2 linked regions of the Homo sapiens genome follow. The protein of the gene in region 1 interacts with the protein of each later gene in a biochemical or structural test. Each region holds a gene or a part of one and is shown on either strand. Other genes may lie near its edges.

Region 1 (3,500 bases):
GACCCTGCTAGCCCCAAGTCCTGCCCCCAGCACAGGCCAGGTACTCAGCAGGGTCATCACTGTTCTGGAAATCCCCTTGCAGGGCATAGAAAGTTCTCAGCGAACACCCATGGAGTAAAACAAGAGGCGGCCTTCACCCTTAGGTGGATTGTAATATTTTAGCACTAAATGCAAAAAGTTCTTTTATGATGGATGCTACAAGATGTAGTTGATGGCTGATAAGAAACATGAAAGTACATGTGCAACCAGTCAGCAATGGTATGTATGTAGGTAGGTAGGTAGGTAGGTAGGTAGGTAGGTAGGTATGTATGTACCTACCTACTTACCTACTTTAGAGATGAGGTCTCACTCTGTCACCCAGGCTGGAGTGCAGTGGTGTGACCACAGCTTGCAGCAGCCTTGAACTCCTGGGCTCAAGCAATCCTCCCGCCTCAGCCTCCAAAGTAGCTGGGACTACAGGCACGTGCTACCACACCCAACTAAGTTTTTAAATTTTTTGTAGAGATGAGGTCTCACTATGTTTCCCAGGCTGTGTGCTGGATTTTGGAAACTGCGTCAAGAAGGGTGGTGGGGAGGGACTGGCCTCCTCTCCAGAGCTCTAGGCACACAAGGACCTCTCATATCCTGCAGTCACTGGCCAGACCAAAGAGGCAGGGAGGGTCCCAGGAGGGAACCCACTACAAACTGTCCCAGTCATCCTGCCAGGCGCTTATGTCCAACCTCGAGCCCTGGGCCTGTTCTGCAAAAGCCTGAGTTGATGTTCTGGGTGGCTGTCAAACATGAAAGGCCTCTTCCTCTCCATCTCTGTCTCCCTTTCTCTCACACAGGCACGCCCCCGCCCAACATGGAGAAGCCCCATCTTTCCTCTAGGCACCTTTTTGGGCACCTGATTCCCTGGGATTCTGGCAAAGGCCCGAGAGTTCTCCCGGACCTTGTGCTTCTTGAGCCCAGGTGCCTCCCACTCAGTAGTTGGTTCCAGGCTCCTCACCTGATCCCACCGTGGAGGCACCTGGGCTGCTTCAAAAGCCCAGATTCCTGGCTCCAGCAATGGGAGTGAGAGGGGTTTCCCAGAGGATTCTGACACTTGGTCTGAGTGACGAACTCTCGTGTAGATGACGTGTTCCCCTTGCTACACCGACGGCATAGCAGTGAGGAACAGTGGAGAAAGGGCATATGTATGGGCTTGAGGTCAGAAGTTCCTGCTCTCACCTGCTGGATGGCACGTGACTTAACCTCTCTGATCTTGGTTTCCTCATTCACAAAACAGGGATGCCACCACCTAACTGACAGGGGCCAGGAAAGGCTGGTGGGTAGTGAAACCAGCTTAGGCCTCTTGCCTCCCCTCTGCCCATGTCCTCTTCCTGGAGTGCAGCCTCTCTCTACCTCATTCCGTCTCTCTCTGCAAATCCTGGTTGGGAATCTCCTCTCCAAACACCGAGGCAGGGCAGGCCCTCGGCAATCACACCCCCCAGCCCTCACCCCTCATGGCTGACCAAAGGAGGGGAGGTGGGGCCGAGGGCTGAGCCCCTCCCTTCCTGTGAACTTTTAAATCACAAGACGATGACGCTGTCTGGTTTTAAGTCCTGTGACTCCAGGACCTTCCAGGCAGAATCACTTATCTACACCTGCGGAGCATGTAATAGTTTACACAATGATTTCTCATTAACCCATGGGGCAGAAAATCTCCGCTTCACAACAGAAATGGAAGGGCACCCATGATGCCACAGTGCCTGGTCACGGTCTCTCCTTGGCCAAAGACCACCCTTCTGCCACCCCTGGCTCCACAGCCTCTGCCTCACTTTCGGGGCCTGTCACTGTGGAGACTGCAGGGCCCCTCCATCCTCCCTCCCACCTGGCTCCCCCAGACAAGCGCTCCCAGCCTGCAGTCCCTCCCCCAGGTCTCTGCCCCCAGCCCCTCTCCCTACACAAGCAGAGCAATCCTTCTAAACCATCTCACCCTCCTCACCTCCTCCCTGATCCCACCCAGGCTCAGGCCTTCCTGAGTGGCTCCTGGTCAGCAGCATCCTAAGCTCCTTACTCAGCCTGGCTGTCCAGGCCACTGGTGATTTGGTCCTCATAACCCTCCATACCAGCTCACACCACACCCATTCACACCCACCACTGGCCACAACCATTCACACCTGCCACCAGCCACACCCATTCACACCCACCACTGGCGACGCCCATGTTGGCACAAGCAGCTCCCTGCAGCAATCCCAGCTGTCCTTGTGTCTCTGAGCACCAAGAGCTGTCTCTTACCCCTGGCTTGCCCAGAGCCTGGCTCTGTCCCTTGACTGAGCAGGTACAGTGGCTATGGTGAGGCGAGGTGCTAGGGCACTCACCTGTGGCCTTCTTGAGGACAGGGGTGTGTTTTATTGGTTATTTATCCCTCTATCCACCCATTCACCCAAGCAGTTACAGAAGGCTATATGCCAGACACGTCAACAACTGACACGGTGACACTCGACGTGTAAAAACAAGTGTACAGTTTACCTTAAGAACATCTTGCTTGCACTTTTCTATTTTGTCTTGCAATTTCTTGAGCTGTTCAGGGTTGAGGGATGGGTCTGCCTTGCTGTTGGCTTCTCGTGAGATAGCCAGCTTCTCCTCTTTGCACGCTGCATGGTGGGCTTTCTTTGCTGCTTCTACCTACAGGGAGAATGAGTTCCTGAATGCCATGTCACTGGGAGTTCAGGATCCTCACTAGAAGTCACACAGACCATGGGAATGCTTGTGCTACCAAGAGGGGAGAAAAAGGCAGGTACAAAATTGTATGTATACTATCATAGCAACCAGTCACAACAGGAACGCACTCAACACATATTCATGGAGTACTTGCTTGTCCTGTGCATGGTTCGAGGCACCAGGAACACAGCAAGAAACACAAGGTCTTTGTGAAGCTTTCATTTGAGTTGCAGGAGGCAGATACAGTATAGGAAAAGTTACATGCCAGAGTCAATTAGAGGGCATTAAGTGTAGGGGAGGACAACTGAGACGGAGCATGGGGTGGGTGGAGAAAGCCACTGAGATGACATGGAACACGCACATGGAGCACGCACATGGAACACGCACATGGAGGGGTTATGGGCATCCCAGGAAGACCATGCCAGGCCGCAGGATCGGCAAATACAAAGAAAGTTCCAAGGAGGAACCCAGCATGAGAGAGAGGACCATACTAGGGGGCAGGGCCATCAGCCACATTTCCTCTGGTTTTAATGGTTTTTACACACACACACACACACACACACACTCTTAACAGATCCTTCCTTATTTGAGCCAAAGCCACAAATTTCATTCTAGAGGGAAGGAGGAGTTTATTAGCAAAGGCCTCATGAGACACAGACAGTTTCATTATGAATGGGGCCAGGGACAAAACAGAAGAGAAAGGAGATGTGACAAAAGCTAAGACACAGAGAAAAGGAGACACAGAGAAAACCATCCGGAAGGACAGAGGCATGTTCTGGATGATTCTGAGGCGGAGGAAGGCAGCGCAAGGCCAG
Region 2 (3,500 bases), on another chromosome or scaffold:
CTGAGACCTTATCTTTTACATCCTGGTATTCTGCTTTTACTCTCTGGTATTCAATGTTTTTTAAAAAATGAATTCATAATACTTCAAGTGGTCATTATCAAATTAAAGAGCATTATACAGAGCTAAATTAGTTCTAAATACACCACAACAGTAGGTGTTCATTTTGAAAGGGGCTTCATATAACACATAAGCAATGTGAAATAATATTTTGAAATAAGAATGAAAGGTAAATCTTAAAGTAGGACATTAACAAATATTCTAGACAAAATGTACTGCCTCTAGGAAAAATGTTAAGGTCCGATTGTATACTTAGTCAACTGTGAATCCAGAATTAAAATATAATAAGTATTAGTGATCTTCACCCTATGTATTCTTTCTTCATGTTAGAAAAATATCAAAGAATATTGTTTCCTAAGTCTCATCTGTCAATCATTAATTAAAAATAGGAACACAATAAACTGTATAATTTGATCATAGATACTAAACATTACTTACTAATGTATGGTACATGTTTCCACAAGGATTAACATGTAAAAGATACTAAATATTACTAATGTATGGTACATGTTTCCACAAGGATTAAACTGTCATCTAAAATCTTAAAAGATTAATAATTGTCAAAAAGCTTACCATTTGGGGGATCTCGTCTTTTCTCTGTTAGAAAATAAATTAGAAGAATATTATTAAATATATGTAAGACAACATCAACATAAAAAAATTAATTCACTAAACTGTCTTATTCCTAAATTGACATACGTGTGACTAAGGAAGATTTTTCAGAAGACCCGACATTTAAGTAGAGATCTAAATAAAATAAGTAAGGGAACAATACATTCAAAGGCCCCAAGGAGGGTGCAACATGAAAGAACATCATGAAGACTGGACTACAGTGAGCAAATGGCACAGTGAAAGGAGACAAGAAGGAAAGTCAGGGACTAGATCATGTAGGGTTCCACAGGCCATGGTTAAGGACTATAGATTTTATGTGTATATGATAGGAAGCTCTTACAGAATTTTAAATAGAGAAAGTGATATAACCTAATCTACAATTCTAAAAGTTTACTCTGGCTACTGTATAGAAAAGAGATAGTAAAAAGGATTGAGTAGCAGCAGGAAGACCAGTCAGAGAGCTAGTGTGGCAGCCCAGCTGACAGATCATGGTGGCCTGGATTAGGATGGTAGCAGCAGAAATGGTAAGAAATAGTCAGACAGGACATGTTTTTGAAGGCAGAGTCAATAGGACTCTGATAGGATTTATGAGGGACCATGGTGAGCCTGAGGGATAAGATGGAACAAATGCCTTTTACTGAAACAAGGAAGATTAGTAGAAGAATAGGAACAGATCTGAGTGGGGCTAAGGTTCAGGATACAGGACATGGATCAAATATTCTGCTCAGACCGTGTTAAGTCTAAAGGCTATTCTGCCACTTGAGTAGACAGAGTCTGAAGGTCAGGGAAGATGTGTCAGTACTGAAGAAAAAACTTTGAGAGTCATTGGCATACAGTTTTTGGAACTATAGGACTGGATGAAAGCACATGTTCTTTCTTCTGAAACTCATCTGCTTAAGATGATTTTGGAGAGGTTCCCCTTTCCTAGTCACCCTTCTCCACTTTACAAGAGAAACACCTGGTTCACTGTTGTCAAGTAATAGTTCTACTCCAATTAACTTAAAGCTTTATACTATCCTGCATTGTTCTATAATTGTTTTATATGTGTTAGAGTTGTTTCACACACTAAACTAAGTTCCTTATGGGTTTTATAGTATATAGCATTAGGAACAAAATAGAAAGACAAGGCAATGTTTACAGATCTTGTTAGCAACTCTGCTTATTTGCTTCTAAGCTTACCTAAAGTCTTTGTTTACAAAGTATAAAATACTTTTAAAACTTTACAAAAAATGCTATCACAAATGCAAAATTAAAAGTCAATATATATGAAATTTTATCAACAAAAAAGGTTATTGTATTGGGCCCTTCGGTAAATCTAAAAAAAATAGTTCTCAACAAAAATATTATTTATTTTAAGGTAAGGACCACCAAATTTTTTTGTAAATAGTAAATATTTCAGATAATAATTTTGGCTTTGAGGACCATATATCACTGTCATCACTATTTAACTGTGTTGTGACAAAAAATAGCCAAAGACAACATGTAAACCAATGAATACAGTTAAGTTTCAGTAAACTTTTATTTACAAAAAACAGGAAATGGACCACACTTGCCCCATGAGCATTAGTTTGCTGGCCTGATTTAAGTAATTAAAAAAGGGTTACCAGATTTCCTTTGTCGACGGCCCAAAAGGTCTGTAACTGCTTTTCGAAATTTTTTTGCTTCTTCTTCATTGGCAAAATTAAGAGCAACTTGACAAGTCTGAAATATTTTCATCACAAAGGGGAAACAACAGAATGTATGAATTTAGCTTTATATCATAAAAACAATGAGGAAAAGAAGTATATTTCTAAAGAACGAAAGGTTAATTTTACTAGCAGATAAGACATTATTTTATGATCTGAATAACTTAACACAAAAGCATGAAGAAGTTCAAGTAAAAGATTACTATTAGAGAAGTTACCTATCACAGCAGACACATATACTAATTTGAATATTTCATCTTCAGCAAAAAAATAAAATAGCAAATTGAATTTGATCTTTCAATAAGGTTCTATAAATAATTTGGATTAGAAAAGGCAAGCAATGAAAAAAGTAAAGATGGCAATAAAGAAAAATATGACTTACATCTCCAGCAAAGGTATGAAAATATCCTCTAGGACTATTATATACAAAGTTATTGTATAGCTCTTGTTCCCACAATAGTTTCCCATCCTAGAAAAAAGTTAAAAATTAAAATAAGAACTACCAAAACATAATCTCTAGGAATAAAACAAAGAAGATGACTCATATTAAGAAAACTGTTTATATTAAAAATAACTTTTAATGCACACATGTAACATATTTATAATATATAAATAGTGTCACATAATCTAATCAGTAATTTCTTAAAACTGAAAACACTGGATAACGTATCTTTCATAAAACCTACATATCAAGTCAGTTTAATTCAGCTAAGATATAATCTCACTAGCCAACCATTTCCAAATTCAGCTACTTGGTCAAATACATAATAACCAGAATAATTACTAGGTCATCAATGTTACATAGAAGGAATAGGATACTTTTGTACATGAACTGATTACCAAAGCACAGTTCCACCAGCAATATTTAGACAATGTACTATCAAACACTGCAGGAATACTTTATGTTCTTTTCCTCAATTTTATAGATGTGGGAGGGTCAAATATACCTTCCTTGTACTGCTAATTAACCATCTTCAAATTCTTAACTTTTGCAGAGTACCTTTCTAATTATATACTAGTATAAGTAGTATTAATCATGATGCAGAAAGAGACTGATAATTAAAATGTATCAAGGTTAAACTATGGATAAGAGTGCCATGATGGCTGCCATATCTATTGCCATAGTATAAAAAATATGTTTAATCT

The links. The genes of interacting proteins can lie anywhere in the genome.
Region 2: the proteins of PACSIN2 (region 1) and WASL form a complex in vitro, tested with the Homo sapiens proteins (one study listed by BioGRID).

What each region holds. Positions count from the first base shown.
Region 1 is NC_000022.11:42,886,150-42,889,649, forward strand, and holds part of PACSIN2 (protein kinase C and casein kinase substrate in neurons protein 2), read right to left. Parts: intron 2,650-3,500; coding exon 2,494-2,649; intron 1-2,493.
Region 2 is NC_000007.14:123,704,004-123,707,503, forward strand, and holds part of WASL (actin nucleation-promoting factor WASL), read right to left. Parts: intron 2,824-3,500; coding exon 2,737-2,823; intron 2,371-2,736; coding exon 2,274-2,370; intron 655-2,273; coding exon 631-654; intron 1-630. UniProt on the Homo sapiens protein: Regulates actin polymerization by stimulating the actin-nucleating activity of the Arp2/3 complex. Involved in various processes, such as mitosis and cytokinesis, via its role in the regulation of actin polymerization.